Regions from separate parts of the Homo sapiens genome. Here regions 2 and 3 are each linked to region 1. Evidence: fine-mapped expression QTL. A gene starts in region 1. Each other region holds a variant in brackets. All regions are shown on one strand. Distances are between the middles of the regions. Region 1 holds the start of VRK1 (VRK serine/threonine kinase 1). Region 2 has its middle 13 kb from the start of LINC00618. Region 3 has its middle 53 kb from the start of LINC00618.

What was found. PIP is the estimated chance that this variant, and not a neighbour inherited with it, causes the effect. A credible set is the group of variants that fine-mapping cannot tell apart.
Region 2: its variant is the best candidate, but not a certain one, in a credible set for the expression of VRK1 in whole blood (INTERVAL, PIP 0.87).
Region 3: its variant is the best candidate, but not a certain one, in a credible set for the expression of VRK1 in whole blood (INTERVAL, PIP 0.55).

The regions. Positions count from the first base shown.
Region 1 is chr14:96,794,671-96,800,278 of GRCh38, forward strand. VRK1 (VRK serine/threonine kinase 1) reads left to right here and starts at 2,712. Exons shown (of 13, transcript NM_003384.3): 1 at 2,712-2,777. RefSeq lists silencers at 2,594-2,793, 2,804-3,093 and an enhancer at 3,038-3,569.
Region 2 is chr14:96,953,674-96,959,281 of GRCh38, forward strand. No RefSeq gene overlaps it. Among named protein-coding and RNA genes, the nearest start is that of LINC00618, 13 kb to the left of the region's middle. The variant G/A (reference allele first, on the strand shown) is at 2,948.
Region 3 is chr14:96,887,507-96,893,114 of GRCh38, forward strand. No RefSeq gene overlaps it. Among named protein-coding and RNA genes, the nearest start is that of LINC00618, 53 kb to the right of the region's middle. The variant A/AT (reference allele first, on the strand shown) is at 2,768.

The sequences.
Region 1 (5,608 bases):
TTTGTATCTTTAGTAGAGACAGGGTTTCACCATGTTGGCCAAGCTGGTCTCAAACTCCTAACCTCGTGATCCGCCAGCCTCGGCCTCCCAAAGTGCTGGGATTACAGGCGTGAGCCATCAATTCTTAATTTCTAAAGCCCACCAACAGCAAGTCCTCGCTGGTCAATCTTATGTATGACCCTGATCTTGACACCAAGCTATCAACTCATAAAAACGTGCCAAGGGTCTGCTAGCTTTGAGAGTTGTATCCCCATCTATAGCATTTCAGACATGTTGTCTCTGTGACAGCAGCTTGGACTGGTGACCTGCCATGCTCTGCACTGGGAAGACATCTCAGCATGTGTGGATGATGTTGTAGGTGCCGGCAACTGCCTTGGAACAGGGCTGCACGTAAGGAGTGTTTAACAGTGAGCCATCAGATCAAGGGTGCCAGGGCCAAGAGCTCCAGAATAAATACATTCCATTCTTACCTTACACTGTTGCTGATTTAATTGTGCTTTAAAGTCAGTCAATTGTCAACCCAGTGTGGAAACAGGGATGTTTCTTCACGTGTCTATTGTGAGGTTAGGGGAACATGGTCACACTATGACAGATAAGTCCTGTTCCAAGTTTTCTTAACATATGTGTGTATTTGTGTGGGTGTGGGTGTGGGTGTGTGTGTCTTTCTCTCAGTGGATTCTGGCCACAGAGTCTTGCTGGGGGATTCCACACCCATGAGATGTGTGAATCTTGAGACTTTTTTGCTGACAGATTTTATCGAGTGCTCACCTTGCCCATGCTCTGTTAGGGTCTCAACAGGAAGCAGATGACATAATTCCAAATAGGGTAATTTGAGGAAGGTTATTTGCAATGAGACTATTTACAACGGTGTTGGGGGTAGGAACCACGAGGGAGGATGCAGTAACTTGTGGGTCAGCAGCAGCCGTGATGTCATCACTTCCAGACCTGAGGCACAAAGGGAAGGGCTACTACCGCAAACTGGAGGGAGGGCCAGGGAGCAGTGACCTTCAGCTGAGGGACCTGCCAACTGGAGGTGACCTTGCCAGTCAGGATCCAGGGGCTTAACCTACTCTAACCAACCTTTCTTTTTCCTCCAATCTTCTGTGGGGTTCTCCACTGGGCACGCCCCAAAGCCAGGGGGCACAGGGAGCGCGAAGTAATTTGTAGAGGTCAGCCTCCTGGGGCAGAGGGCAGGCAGGAGAAGTATTTGGAGCAGATGAGGGTATCTGGAGGGGAAAATGTAAGACATCAGGCACAATATTGCCCTGTCTAATGGACAGAGTGATTCCAGGTTTTGTAGGGACTGAAGCTCACATAATTTTGGGGGATCTACTTTAAGAAAAATCAGCTGGGTGTGGTGGCTCATGCCTGTAATTCTAGCACTTTGGGAGGCTGAGGCGGGGTGGATTGTTTGAGCTCAGGAGTTCAAGACCAGCCTGGGCAACATGGTCAAACCCTGTCTCTACAAAAAATACAAAAATTAGCCAGAAGTGGTGGCCTGTGCGTGTAATCCCAGCTACTCGGAGGGTTGAGGTGGGAGGATTGCTTGAGCCCAGGAGGTCGTGGCTGCAGTGAACCGAGATCGCGCCAATGCATTGCAGCCTGGGTGACAAAGTGAGACTATATCTTTAAAAAAAAGAAAAAGAAAAGTAAAATCGACAAATAAACCCCCAAAGCTATGTAAACTCATTGAGGGACCTGCGCAAGTGAGGTCCTGAAGCTTACGCTTCATTGGCTTCATTGTTAATCTCCCTCTGCCTGTGACTTCAGTGATTTTGACCTAGAACAATGACCCAGTGCCCAATAAGCTCTCAGCCTCATGGGTGATGGAGACTTAGCTGATTATAATAAACACAATGCGGCCGGGCGCGGTGGCTCACGCCTGTAATCCCAGCACTTGGCGAGGCCAAGGCGGGCGGATCACAAGGTCAGGAGATCGAGACCATCCTGGCTAACACGGTGAAACCCCGTCTCTACTAAAAACAGAAAAAAATTAGCTGGGCGTGATGGCGAGCGCCTGTAGTCCCAGCTACTCGGGAGGCTGAGGCAGGAGAATGGCGTGAACCCGGGAGACGGAGCTTGCAGTGAGCCGAGACTGTGCCACTGTACTCCAGCCTGGGCGACAGAGTGAGACTCCGTCTCAAAAAAATAAATAAATAAAAATAAATAATAAACACAATGCAAACTGTGGCATACGTTGATTACAGATGAAACACTATAGATGATTAGGTAGACATTGAGATATGCTTTGAAATAGGCTTCGAAAAACAGGTAGGATTTAGACACATATCAATGAGTGGGCAGAATAATACTAACACTATCTGCTATTTATTGAGCACCAACTAAGTTTAAAGTACTGCCTATAGATTATTTCATTTAATCCTAACAGAAACAGGAAACTTATTTTACACCCAACTCTCTGCCAATACACTTAATAAATCAAGCTACTACGAACAAGGCTGTAAACCACATTTCCTAGAAGACCAGGGAGCAGAAGGACGGGGATCTCCCTTTGCCGCTAAGAGACTCCAACTCCCAGGATGCCTTGGGAGCGCTGGACCACAGCTCCCGGCATTCCCGGGGAGGCGCGGGGCTAGCGTAGCCTCCGCCCCGCGCCTCGCGTTACCACTCGTCCCGCCCCTCCTCGTCGCCTCCGAGCCAATGGGAAGGCTCCATACTGCAGGGTGCGAAGGGGCCGGCGCCGCTGCCGAGTTACGAGTCGGCGAAAGCGGCGGGAAGTTCGTACTGGGCAGAACGCGACGGGTCTGCGGCTTAGGGTAGGGAGGCCGCAGGCGACACGGCTCGAGGACTCGCGCGCCGAGCCGGGGGCGCGGAGGCGGGCGGCCGGGGCTGGGGCCGGCACTGGGCCTTCCGGGCGGCCTGTGGGTCCACCGGGGTGCGGGAGTCGCCGTCAGCCTCGGTCGCCCCGCGGGACCGCGCTCCGCCGCGTGGCTTCCGCCTGCGCGGGCGTCCGCTCCTTCCTTGTCTCGTTCAGGCCCCGCAGGCGCCCCCGGGGATGCCTGGACTGGCCAGGCCGGCCCCCATCTGAGCTCCACGTTCTGGACGCGCGTGGTGTCGCGGCCGAGCTCGCAAACGCCGCCTCGGGCCTCACCGGGAAGCCGGTTCTGTCAGGCGGGGCTCCGGGTGAACAGCGCAGGCGAGGCCCCTGCCCCGCAGAGCTCACTCTGTAGAAGGGAAACAACACACGCAGCTGCGATGTTTTGCGGATACGGAAATGCTTTCTTAGAAACGGGACAGGCAGTTGCGGGCTAGAGGAATGGGGGCGAGGCTCTTTAGGTTAGGTGATCCGGGAGGGCATCTCAGAGGATGTGACCTTTGACTTGAGACCTGAGAGGGGAGGCCGACCCCTGAGGATAGCAGCCAGGCCTGGGGACCGCGAGGCCGCCCGTTATTTCCCTGTCACATCGCGGGGAGGCCCCGTGATCCTGTACTTGAGGGTCTGTCTGGTGCAAGGCAGTTAGAGCCGCTTGTGTGTTTTGCAAGGGACTTTCATAACCGTTTGACAGTTCCTCCTCATTCTGTCCTTACCTGGCAGGGTGGCATCCTTTACTGTTGCAGCTCCATTCAGGGGCAACGCATAGTTTTTCCTACCACCGAAATAGTATTGTGGTTCTCGTCTCAAAACTCTTAGGTGGTAGAATTAAATTCGACAGACAGCAGCAGAGTCAGACACTATAGGTTCCTGTTGAGGCCACCCATTTTTCTGATGTCCTTTCTTTCAAGTCACTCATTTTTGTTTTCCTTTGTATAGACTCTTCCCTTCCCTTTCCTGTGTCCCTTTCTTGGAACAACTTGGAAATACAATTTGCTATTGGGAGGATGTTGGTTTTAGGGAACTGTTGAAGAACTTCATTAATTATTGTGTGTGTGTTTTTCTTTTCTTCTTCTTTTTTTTTAAACTGGAATTGCCCATCTGTTGAGACTGAAATTCAAGAGTAAAAAAAAGTAGGGCAGCATTTATTTTCAAGAGTTGACAATAAAGGCACCTTTCTTTATGACATGCTGAGCATGATACTTTGGGGGAGAATTTAATCTAGAATTTTGAAGCATTTTCAGAAGGAAGCAAGGGTTCTTTATATAGTCATTTTATGTAGGTTACGTTTATGTTCTTCAAAATGGCATGTAGTGATTGGAATTAAATTTCTGGGTAGATAAGATTATGTTCATCTGTTACCTATAGAAGGGAATGTAACTTAAGTAGTCACTTAATAATAGCTTTCTCTGTTGATGCTACCACAGATGGTATTCTCTACATCTCAACATTGCTGATCAGATTCTGTGTTAATACAGTAACACAACTTGAATTTAATAACAATAAACTTGTGTTAGGCGTTACTGTCAATTTAGTTCTGGTATCCAGTACAAATACCAGTTTTATAGTGCAATGTCTTCTTGTTATGTTCAGTGCTGCAAAAATTATGAGAGGATATTTGTTAAACAAATGAGATAATGGAGTAATGTGTTAAGCATAGAGCCTGGCATATAGTAAGTTAGTAAGTGCCCAGGAAATGGTTATATGGAAAGCTTATGCTAAGTTTTATTCCAGTATGCAAGTGTGTATTTTAAAAATAACAGTAATGCATTCAAAATGTTGACAGACCCTAAAATTAAATTTCTTAAAGGAAATAGGCCAGCTTTTTTTTTTAACTTTGAGAACTAATGTGAAATAATAATAAATATATAAGTGAAATGTCCCAGATGTCTAGAAATGAAAAAACAAGATTTTAATTTTGACAGCTATATTTTTTTTTCTTAAAAGCATCCCTAATAAGATATAATGTACTATGATTAGGATTATGATTTGAAAAATAAAACTTTAAAAATATTTTTGATTTGAAAAATAAAACTTATTTGGAAATGAAGCGAAGCTTTAAGATTTACCTTATATCAAATGAAGGATGTCTCCTGAATTTATGCAAATGTGCAAATGCTTATATCTCCGTAGATCAGGCAGTGAGCCTAATGGGAATTAAATGCTGCCTCTTTGTGCGTGTGAGTGAGGCTTTCATGAAAATTGCTCTTGATGGGTTCTGAGAATGGATTGGTAGCTGAATAGGACTGGAGAATATTTTTCAGACTGGTAGGATATTTTACATGCTTGCCAGGGTTATTTTTCGGAGTAAGGAGAAATGGACTCATTTATTCAGCAGAGATCACGTGCCCCCTATTTACAAGGAATTGTGCTAGGTGCAAAGTCTATTGCTATTGTAGTGTTTTGCTGAAGCAAGTTTTCTTTGTTTTAAATTAGTGTACGTCTTTTTTTTTTTTTTTTTAACTTTATCTAGCATCCAGCACAGAATAATCCAATAAATGTGTAGGGCGCCTTTGAAAAACTGCACTATTAATGTTAAAATGTAGAAAATGTTTAATAAAGGTACAAGATTAATTTAAAAGGGTGATAGAACCCTAATAAAACATTTAGGTAGGTGTTGTAACCAAGATGTATTTTTACTCTAGGATAAGTTTGGCTCTTTTGATCAAAATTCCTGTGAATATATTTCTACTTGCCATTATAAAGATGCAGAGGGCTCTGTCCTTTGAATTTTTTCCCTTTGGTGCTTGAATGATATTTAAGCACCCAGCATTC
Region 2 (5,608 bases), 160 kb after region 1:
TCTTCAGCTCCCTGGCGATGCCTGTCCTGGTCATTTCTCACCTGCATGATGGAAATCGCCTCCTTGCTGGTCTCTGACTTTCTCTCCTCCTCTCATCCATCTTCCACTCAGCAGCCTGAGTGATCTTTCTGAATTGCAAATCAGATCCCATCAGTGTCCTCCTTAAAAGTCTTTTAATGGCTCCCTAGGGTGGTGTTTTTCAACCTTTAAAAAAAAATCCCATGTGCTGGTTTGATAAATAATGATAATAGCTCCTATTTATCAATAGCCACTGTTACTATTTATCAAGCACTTCCTGTGTGCCAGGCCCTGTGCTTGTGATAATTCGTGTAACCCTGACTGGAACAGGCACATGTCTCCTGTTTTAAAGGTGAGGACACAGCTTTAGAGGGAGACGTGTCTTGCTGGAGGTGAGGTCACACAGCTGGCCAAAACCCAGGTCTGATTGGCACCTAAGGGGAGGCTGCCAAACGTGATGTGAGGTGGCCTCTCTATTGCATGCTTCCACACACCCCTTTTATAGTTTGCTATTTCTCCAGGGCCCAGAGTCTCCCTCCAGGTGATGGGGCCTCACCCCTCTGCCCACACATAGATTGCACTCCCTTTTGGAACCATCACCCAGTGTCTGTGGGATAGACTCCAGGACTCTTCTGGTGACCTACAAGGCTTCTGCTGGCCTCTCTCTGTCTCCCCTTCTATGCATCCACTCTACTTATCCTGGTCCCGCCTCTCTGCTTTGGGTTTGCTTCCCCTGCCTCTTCGGATTCTAGCTCATTCTTGAGACTCAACATAAGCATCACCTCCTCCAGGAAGCCATTAATGCCCCAGGCTGGATCAGGGGCCCCGCCTGAATGTTCCTGCTGCATCAGGTACCTCTGCCCTTGATCACGCTCTAGCCAGGTATGTTTCTCCTTTTTCACCTCCTCCAGACTGTGAGTCTATTCATTCATTTGTTCATGTATTCATTTAAGAAATATTTACTGAGTGCCTACTATGTGATAAGCATTGTGCTAGGTACTGCAGATGCTGTAGTGACAAGAACAGACAAGATTCGTATTCTCATGGAAATTACATTTGTAACAAGATGTTGGAATGGAAATTTTGGGCAAGATCCAGGATGAAGTTGGGTACTACATCCCAAAGATGCGGACATGAGGGCCTTGTTCTCGGTGGGGGAGGGGATACTCTACTTTGAAATGTACATGCATGGCTTTGGAGTCAGATGGCCTGGCCTCCAAGCTCAACTCTGGTGCTTAACTTGCTGTGTGCCCTCAGGCAGGTTACATTGCTTCTCTGAGCTGAAAAACAAGTTCACTGATTCAGACCCCACAGGGTTTTGGTTGGGATTAAAAATGTGGGTGATCACCTGGCATTTGGCTGGTATTCAGCTGATGAAAGACCCTTCACTATCCTCCCTTTACCCCACCACAATTGTTCAGCGAGTCCTGCATCTCCAGTTTGGTTTGGAGGTAGCAGGTGCTCCTGGGGCATTCCTGAATCCCAGCCCCCTGGACTTGCCTCTTTTGGACCTCTCCTTCCTTGGGGGATCTGAGACACACCTTTGAGGACAGGGGCAGTGATTTGCACATCTGCCGTCAATGTATTTGATGGCCTAGTTCCACTCACCGCTTCCAAAACTGTGTTTTATTCTTCTCCTAAATTACTAATAACATGAGAATTGAAGAATCTAGATGTTTAAAATCTGTTAAAAACTAAAAACCTAGGAGCAACCAAGATGTCTTTCGATAAGTGAGTGAATAAACAAACGTGGTACAGCTATACAATGGAATATTATTTAGAGATAAGAAATGGACTGTCAGCTTACAAAAGGACATGGAGAAACTTCCAGTCCACATTGCTGAATGAAAGAAGCCAGTTTGAAAAGGCTAGCTAGTGTATGATTCCAACCATATAACATTCTGAAAAAGGCAAAATTATGGAGATGGTAGAAAGATGGGTGGTGGCTAAGAATTGGGAGGAAGTGCAGAGGGATGAAAAGGTGGAGTTCAGGGGCTTTTGAGGGCAGTGAAGCTATTCTGTACACCACTGTAATGCTGGATACATGCCATTTGCCAAAATCCATGGAATGTATGACACAGATGGTTAACCCCAATCTAAAGTAAGGACTTTCATTATTAATAAGGTGTCAGTACTGGTTGATCAGTTGCAACAAGTGCAATGGCAACACTCATGCAAAATGTTGACAGTGGGGGAAGCTGTGAATGTGAGGGCAAGGGGAATACACAAGAAGCCTCTGTATTTTACACTCACATTTTCTGCAAACATAAAACTGCTCTAGAAAATAGTCTAAATAAAATAAAATAAAATAAATAAAGTTGATTCCTTTGAAGAGCACAAATCTCATGTACCCCAGGCACCAGGGGTTCTCCTCTGGGATTTCAGGCTGCAGGTTTTGTGCTGTAGAGGAAGGAGTCCAGCTGTGGGCTGGGCTACACCCTCCTCACATACGTTTGTGGCCAGAGCCCAAACCTCTGGGACTGGTCCCAGCACAGGCCGTAATCACCTGTGGAAAGTTGAGAGCAGTGCTGGCCCACAGAAACATACAGCGAGCCACATGTGTAGGAGGTTTTTTAGTAGCCAGGTAAAAAGGAACAGGAGAAATAAACTTTAATACTATAATTTAACCCAATTATCCAAAATATTATCATTTCAACATGTAATTCATATAAAAATTACTAGTGAGGTATTTTGCATTCTTTTTTTTCCACACTAAGTCTTTGAAAGCTGGCGAGTGCTTAAGACTCATCTCAATTCAGACTCAATTCAGGCTGTGTTTCCAGTGCTCCGTAGCCTCCTGGAGTCTGTGGTCACTTCAGTGGACAGCACAGGTTCAGATGGTCACTGGGCCATGTGGGGAACCAGGAGGTTGTTCAGGGAGGCTCCTCCCCACCATCTCCTTCCCTCCTTTGTTCCTTCCCGTGTCGAG[G/A]GTGTGCCAATTAAAAATTAATTTTTAGAGGTGCACTCGTCTCGCAGACTCCTTGGGGCCAAGTGTCTGTGCCCAAGGCTCTGTGCACTCGAGGCAGAGGCAGACCCATCTTAGTGAAGCTGCTGCAGCTTCATTCCACCACAGCGGGTGGATTTTTCTCCTTCCCCTACCTGCACTTTGATTATTTAAGACAGAGCTAAATGTGAGGGAGAATGGGGTCCCACAGAGCTGCAGGCTAACTTTGCCCCAGAAGAGCCTCTTATGGGGAAAATCCTCTTAGCAACATCGCCAGAATAAAATGGTATTCCTTAGCTTGCCATCCCTGCTGAGACAAGGAGAGCACAGGCTATGTGCGGATTCTTCAGCTGTTTCCCTTTCTGTGTCCATGACAGACATCACTAATCAATCTCAGCTCTTTCTGAACTATCTGCGCCTGCATCCTCTCTGTACTCCACCTCCTGCTCCAGGCAGACAATCCTGATTGATAGACTACAGACAACCAGTTGGCTCTCCCTCTCCAGTTTGCTATCCTGCTCTATGAGATGGCCCATCTCATCTTTCCAACATTACTTCTCATTGCACCCTTCTCTCCATGGACATCACATTCCAGCAGCATCAAATGAGTCTTTATTTTCTTGAACACCTAAAGCCCTGTGTATGGCTGGTCAGGTTGTTCACTGTATACGAGGGCTCCCAGCCAAGGGGTGGGTAGGGCATGGCATATGGCCCAATGCCCGTTCATCAAGCTGTACACTTTAGACTGAGGATGCCTGCACTGGGTTCAAGGTAGCTTTTGTTCAGTTTACACAAAGGCATTATATATTCTAGTAGTGATCTGCGAACAGTCTCCGGCCCTTTGTGTATGCAAATCCTTCTGCCTGGAATGCCCTTTCCCTACCATTTTGTCCTCATTCTTTGAGACCTGCTTCAATCCCTCAAACCCTGTCCAGGTCTAGTGGCAAACACTGCAATTTCCCTTGCGTCTCTCAGCCATGGCTCAGCTCACAGCCAACCTTATGTAAGAACTAAGTGGGGTCATTTTTATCCACATGGAATTGTGAGCCTCTTGAGTCTGGAGGCTGTGTGTGATTTTCCAGCCTGGGGCAGCCTGGCATAGCCACCTGAAACAGAAGTGCACGGACTTGACCAAACCAGACATTTCTAATGAAGTTTTTTGTTGTTGTTGTTGTTGTTTTGAGATGGAGTCTCACTCTGTTGCCAGGCTGGAGTGCAGTGGCACGACCTCAGCTCACTGCAACCTCTGCCTCCTGAGTTCAAGCAATTCTCCTGCCTCAGCCTCCTGAGTAGCTGGGACTACAGGCACCCGCCACCACACCCAGCTAATTTTTGTATTTTTTGTAGAGACAGGGTCTCACCATCTTGGCCAGGATGGTCTCGATCTCTTGATCTCGTGTTCCGCCTGCCTCGGCCTCCCAAAGCGCTGGGATTACAGGCATGAGCCGCCGCGCCTGGTCCTAATGAAGTTCTAAGACAGACCAGGCTGCGACCACTAGCGACATGAACAGGCAGCACTTACGGAATGCTTCCCCCGTGCCCGCACAGCTCTAAAGACAGCATGGGCGATCTCAGTTAGTGCTTGCAACAAGGCCATGAGGTGGGGGTTATCACTGCTGTCCCTGGTTCATGGATGGGAGTGGCAGAGGGAATGAGTCACAGACAGATTGAGAACCTGCCCCGGGGTATGGGACTGGGTTAGGGACAGGTGTGCTGACTCCAGGCTCCTGCTTATCATTTTCTCTAGGCACCCCCATCACCTCCCACTGTACTGATGGTTCAGCTTTTCCATCATGGATGTGGGAGGGTGGTTAAAGAGCATTAACAGTAATAACAACAGCAGCGGTAACTCGTTCTTAGGGACACTCCACCTGTACCAGACACTGTTCTGAGTGCTTTCTGCAGATCACCTTGATTGTGCCTGCATGTCTGTGCCAAATGCTGGACACGCATCTCAAAGTGGGCATAGCCTCTCCCCACCTTTTGTTCCTGCTGAGTAAACTGAGGCCCGAGGTTCTCGCAGCTAGCAAGTGCTGGCTCCTGGATTTGCCTTGGGGGCCTGCCTGGCTTTCATGCCTGGCCTCGGGCTCCACGTGCTGCTGCCCCTCAAAGTCCCCTCCCACAGGGCAGGGAGTCTAGGGTGTTCCTGCCTTCCAAAACCTAAGTTTATCCCCTGGGGGAGGTAGCAGAGCCCACTTGGTGGGCACATGAGCCCTGGGGGCAGCCTGCTTGGTCCAAATCCCAGCTCTGCCACTCACCTGTCGAGAGCCTTGGTGAGTTGCTCAACATCTCTGTGCCTCAGTTTCCTCAGCTTTAAAATAGATGCAATGCTAGGCCTGTTGCTGTGGTTGCTATGGACACTGAATGAGACAACATGTTGATGCGCTTATACGCTTAAACATACAGGAAACGTTAACCTCTCACTATGATACCCAGCACCGCTGAAGGCGGCAGCTAGAGAGGATGGAGCCTGGACTTTGGAGACGGGTCCTGGCATTGCACAAATTGCACATCCTCTCTGGATCTCAGTTTCCTCACCTGCAAAACAGGTGTGAGAATCTCTACCTGGAGTTACTTCGTCATTCAGCACATGTGTGGGGGCTTGTGATGGGCTAGCCCATGTTGGGTGTCAGGGATTCCACAACA
Region 3 (5,608 bases), 93 kb after region 1:
AAAAGTTCATGATGGTGGTCCTTGGTATAATTCTCAGATGTGAGAAAGGTCCCTACACACTTTCGTAGTCTTTTCCCATAAGGGACCAATATGTGTTAGTACTTAAAAGTGAAAGTAGAGCCACTGAAGGGTCTGGTCAGCTAAGCCTGAGGACTCGAAAGTTCTAGGACAGTGTATTCCAGGGAAAGTTACAACTGGGAAGTGATTCTATTAGATTGTCCGGTGAAGAGAGAAAAAAGTACATTTACTTCTTGAACTTTTGTAGGTCGAGAAATGTGCCTCCAAGGTTCTTAGGAAGACCTTTGACGTGGATATTTTAGTTCTTCCCTACTCCTTCCCCTGCCCCAACACAAACAGCCTCACGTCTTCATTTACTTCGTTAACTATTATGGAACATTTTGGTGCAAACATGTGAATCAGTTTAACTGGAGAAGTAATAACGTACATCCCAGTCTGCTTGACATTGTAATTGCAGAAGTATATGATCTAATCCCTGTGTACCTCCCCACCCCAAGTTTCTAGTCCAGAAACCCTTGACAGATAATTAAACAGTTATGGCAAAGTATTAGATTGATGCAAAAGTAATTGTAGTTTTTGCCATTTTTTAAATATTGTGCCTTAGCATTCATAATTTTAAGTAGGGTCATTTAGACATTTCTTAAGATATGCACACAGTTGCAATGGGTTTTTTTTTCCTTTTTTTAAGTTTCTAACTAGACTTTCAAAAGAGAAGCCGTCTGTATTCCAGGTGCTACAGTCCCAAAATAAGTCTCTGATATGTCATGCAAAGTGTTCAGAAAGCAAAGGTGGTTGAAATTACATCAAAATGGTTTCCAAGGCCCTGTCTGTTCTTGTAGAGGTCAGAGAAACCACAGCCTGCAAAAACACAATTGAGGCCAAAAATCTGAAACACCTGCTGTTCCCAATGAACTGTGTGATGCACATAGAAAGTGTTTGGAAGGGAGGGTCAAGCTAAGTGAACAGTCATGATAATACCTGGTTGGTCTTGTAGCAGCAAAATTGAGGGGAAATATGAAAGTTTTTAAAATGGATTTTTTTTAATGTTATTGTTGATACCCCTATTTGAATGTAAAGTCCCTAACACAAAGAAGCAAGCTTCCTTTAGACTGCATTTACTGCTCTTGATGACTCCAGTTGTGTGTAAATATTAGAAAACAGCAGGGTCCTGCATTCCAAGAATCACTTGAGCAGTGCCACGAAGACAAGTGTCCTTACTGGTATTGTAGTCATACTCCCAAGCTCTCCTGCTGTTTCTAATCTGTGCGCACAGCCGTGAAAAAACTGGACTGACATTTACAGGCACAGCAGGGAGACACTTGACTAGGGAATGTTGAAGACTACAGCACCTCCAATTCAAAGTGGCCACCACACATGATAAATCTTCACAGGAGAGCCAGTCTGCACTTCAGCTGATGCCATAATGAGGGTATCTGTAATGAAGCAAAAAGCAGAACATTATTCTCCTCTAAACTCAACTTTTTAGCAGTCAGATGTTTATTGTTGCCTTTTTTAAGACCTAAATATCTAAAGGAAAAATCTAATTCTGCGTGGGTGTCGGATCTATTTCTTTGAAACTTTTTTGGAAGGTCTGTTTCCTTACTGCTCAGTCCTTACTAGGGTTTTACAGGAATGTTCCTTAGTAAAAGAGCATTTACTCATCAACTCTGAATAGAAATAACATTTCCTGGAATCTTTTCTAACTGGCATGTAAACGAGGGTCAGTCGCTTTCTGCCTCGAGTTCGGCAGATTTTATTCCCTGTTTTGTCCCAGGGAGCTGCCAGATTCGTATGCCATAATACCAGTAATGCAATTAGGTTTGCTGCACATTGTCTGGTTGACTTCTCAGTTAAGAGTTTCTTTCCCTGTGGGAATAAGACTAGACAGACTGCCATTTGCTATTACTAATTCTGCTTAGCATTATCACTGGAGCTTTTTTTGTAATTAGCTATCTTAGTTGGCTCTTAAATTTTAATAGCCAATTGAAGCTACGTTTTCGCCAAGTTCCATATCTAAATTGCATTCAGTCCATTAACAAAGTTGGTTAAAAGGCTATTAAAAGCCAATATATGGTGGTTCGCACTTTCATCTTTGCGGCAGTAGCAATGCTGGCTTCCTCCGAGTTCTCTAAAGGAACTTACTCTCCTCAAAGTTACACATAAACTGGACACAACTTCTGAGCGGCAAGAAATTAATGACAAGATTTTTAGCATGCTAACATATTTCAAAAATGTCACTGCCTACCCCCTTTGCCTTTTGGTGAGGGTTCTTCCAGGGTTTGGTTTCATTTGGTTGATGGCGATGAAGGAAGGAAGAAAGACATTTAATATTGTAACTTAAAATTGATGGTTTTTGAAAAGTGAATAATTGAAATGATGTTTTTCTCCATTTTAGCTTATCAAAATTATTAGCAAAACCATCTGAGGCACCTTCTGGTAGAATTATAGTCTCGCTGGGTTTAGTTTGTAAAACATTCTGCCAGACATTTAAAAAAAAAAAAATTGTAGTGGAGCCAACACATAGGCTCAGAGCACTCTTTGCCTAATTGATAGTCCTCGTTATTATTATGGTTAAAGTCAGAAGACCATTTCTAACACTCCCCCACCCTTGGCAAATTAGTTTACCATGATTTTAATTTCTACATTGAGTCCCCCTTCCTCCAAATTGGAACGTTAGTTCAGTTTTCCATTTTCAAAGGTACTTAATTTCAAAAATTTTTACAATTTGTAATGCAGGCTGTCAAAAGAA[A/AT]TTAGACTGGTACAGGGTGCATTCAGTGTACATTTATCTCTGAATCGTTAGTATCCTGGGAATGAAGACGTGGAGAGAAACTAGTGGGCAAATACATCCTGTCACCTTGACTCAGTCCAGTGCAACTGAAACAGCCCTCCACCCCCACCCTGCCCCATTTTGCCAGTGTCCTATTTTGAAAAGAATAGTTTTTCTGTTTCAAAAATCTACAGATTTTTTAAGACTCCAAATGATGGCTTTTTCTATTGCCCCATTCAGAAGCTATTAGAAATTGTATTTAATCTTAAATTTTTCAAAGTCACAAGAGGTTCAAATACTTTCCATCTCCCTCTATTTGACCATTCTTCCATAGCTAGCTTTCTCTATCACCCCCAGAACTGTGATCAGGCTTTGTCTTTGATGATGTTATCTTCCCTACTGAAAGCCACCTGGCAGACAAAATCTGGGTGGAGGTAATTCTGCTAAAATTACGTTTCCATTTTAGGAGTCCATATTCACATGGGATTTTTCATACAAGTTTACTTTTTCAGTCTTTGGCTAGATGGCTGAGGCAACATCAATGAAAGTATAAGAGCTTCACATGTCTTAGCAAAGCAACAGCTGGATGGTCTCTGATGATTTTTGTTCTATACCAGAAGCTGATAGAAAAGGACAAGAGAGGTCATTTTATCCATGTTAAGATTATAATGCAGTAAAATTAATATGTTATTGTATATGTAACTAATTGAGCTTTAATAAAAATAAAACTGGCTTTAAAAATCATGTCACAAAACTCTCTAAGAGATGAGTTTGATGGCTTCTCCTATGGAAGACAAAGCAAGAACAGCCCTGCTGTGTGTTTTTTGTTTTGTTTTGTTTTGTTTTTTGAGATGGAGTCTCTGTCGCCCAGGCTGGAGTGCAGTGGTGTGATCTTTTGGGTGCTAACTTTCCCATGCTCCTGAATTGCACATGTGGAATGCAATGTTCCTGGTAGGCATCTCATACAACCCCTAGAGAAGGAAAGGAGAGGGGCCTTCAGGAACCTGGTAGAAGCCTGGGCAGAGTTGGCTGACGTCACTTGGTCTGGAATGAGAGAGGATTTGACATTGCACACAGTACAGGAGGCACCTCACGTGTTACCATGTGATTCACTTAAGGTCTTTTCTCTTGGACTGGTCTATTTCCTTAGAGAAGGTTCTATCTGTTGCCCAGAGGGCTGAATTTTGAAGACCATAGTTAAGAGAGCACCATCCAATTCATCAGCTTTGCCTTTTAGGGATTATGCTTTTGGTGTCTGGTCTAAGAATTTGGCCTAGCCCTAGATTCTGAAGATTTTTCAATTTTCCCTGAAAGTTCTAGAGTTTTATGTTCTACATCTAAGGCTTTGATCTATTTTGAGGGTTTTTTTATATCTATATAAGCTGTGAGTTTCGAGTCAAGATTCTGCTTTTTGCCTATGGATGTCCAATTGTTTCAGAACAATTTTATTATTACTATTATTTTATTTTTTCCAAGACTGAGTCTCGCTCTGTTGCCCAGGCTGGAGTGCAATGGCGCAATCTCAGCCCACTGCAACCTCCGCCTCCCGGGTTCAAGCAATTCTCCTGCCTCAGCCTCCCAAGTAGCTGGGATTACAGGCATGCGCCACTAGGCCCGGCTAATTTTTGTATTTTTAGTAGAGACAGGGTTTCACCATGTTGGCCAGGCTGGTCTCAAACTCCTGACCTCGTGATCCATCCACTTTGACCTCCCAAAGTTCTGGGATTACAGGCGTGAGCCACCGCGCCTGGCCTCAGAACAATTTTTTGAAGAGACTTTTCTTCCTCTTCTGAATTGATTTTGCACCATCAGAAAAAATTAGACATATTTGTAGATGAGTCTATTTGTGGATTTTCTATTCAGCTAGCTCTATGTCCACTGATCTGCCAGTATCACACTGTTTTGATTACTGTAGCTATATAGTGAGCTTTGGTATTAGATTCCTCCCGCTTGGTCATTTTTAAAGATTGGTTTAGCTATTCGAGAACTTTTGCCTTTCTATACAAATTTTAGAATGAAATTGAGGTCTACAAAAAATGGTATTGAAACTACAGACAATTTTGGGAGAACTGACATCTTTATTGTGTTAAATCTTTCGATCTATGAACACAATACTTTGTTGTTGTTGTTGTTGTTGTTTAGGTCTTTGAGTTTCAATATACAATCCTGTACTTAGTTTGTTAAGTGTATACCTAAGAATTTAACTTTTTTCTGAAGCAGTTGTAAATGGTTTTGTGTTTTTTTTTTGGTGGGGGGGGAGGGGTTGAAGTCTTGCTCTGTTGTCCAGGCTGGAGTGCAGTGGTGTGATCTCAGCTCACTGCCACCTCCACCTCCCAGGTTCAAGCAATTGTCCTGCCTCAGCCTCCAGAGTTGCTGGGATTACAGGCACCCGCCACCACGCCCGACTAATTTTTGTATTTTTGGTAGAGATGGGGTTTCACCACGTTGGCCAGGCTGGTCTCCAACTCCTGACCTCAGGTGATCCGCCCACCTCGGCCTCCTCAAGTGCCGGGATTACATGTGTGAGCCACCGTGCCTGGCAGGTATTGTTTTTAATTTCAGTTTCCACAGATTCATTGTTAGTGTAAAGAAATACAATTTTTGAGTTTTGTGTTTTGCTGTCACATTGACGAATTTACTATTTATCAATTTTAAAACTTAAGTATTGAGTTCTTATTATGATAGATGAGATTTTAGCTCTCTTGTACTCTTCCCCTTCCCCTATCCTTTCGTACAATTAGGTATTTTTAGATAAATTGGTAGTCAGGGTTTACATTGTTTCAACTAGGTAGATATTACTTATTTCAGTGTATTGTGATGTCG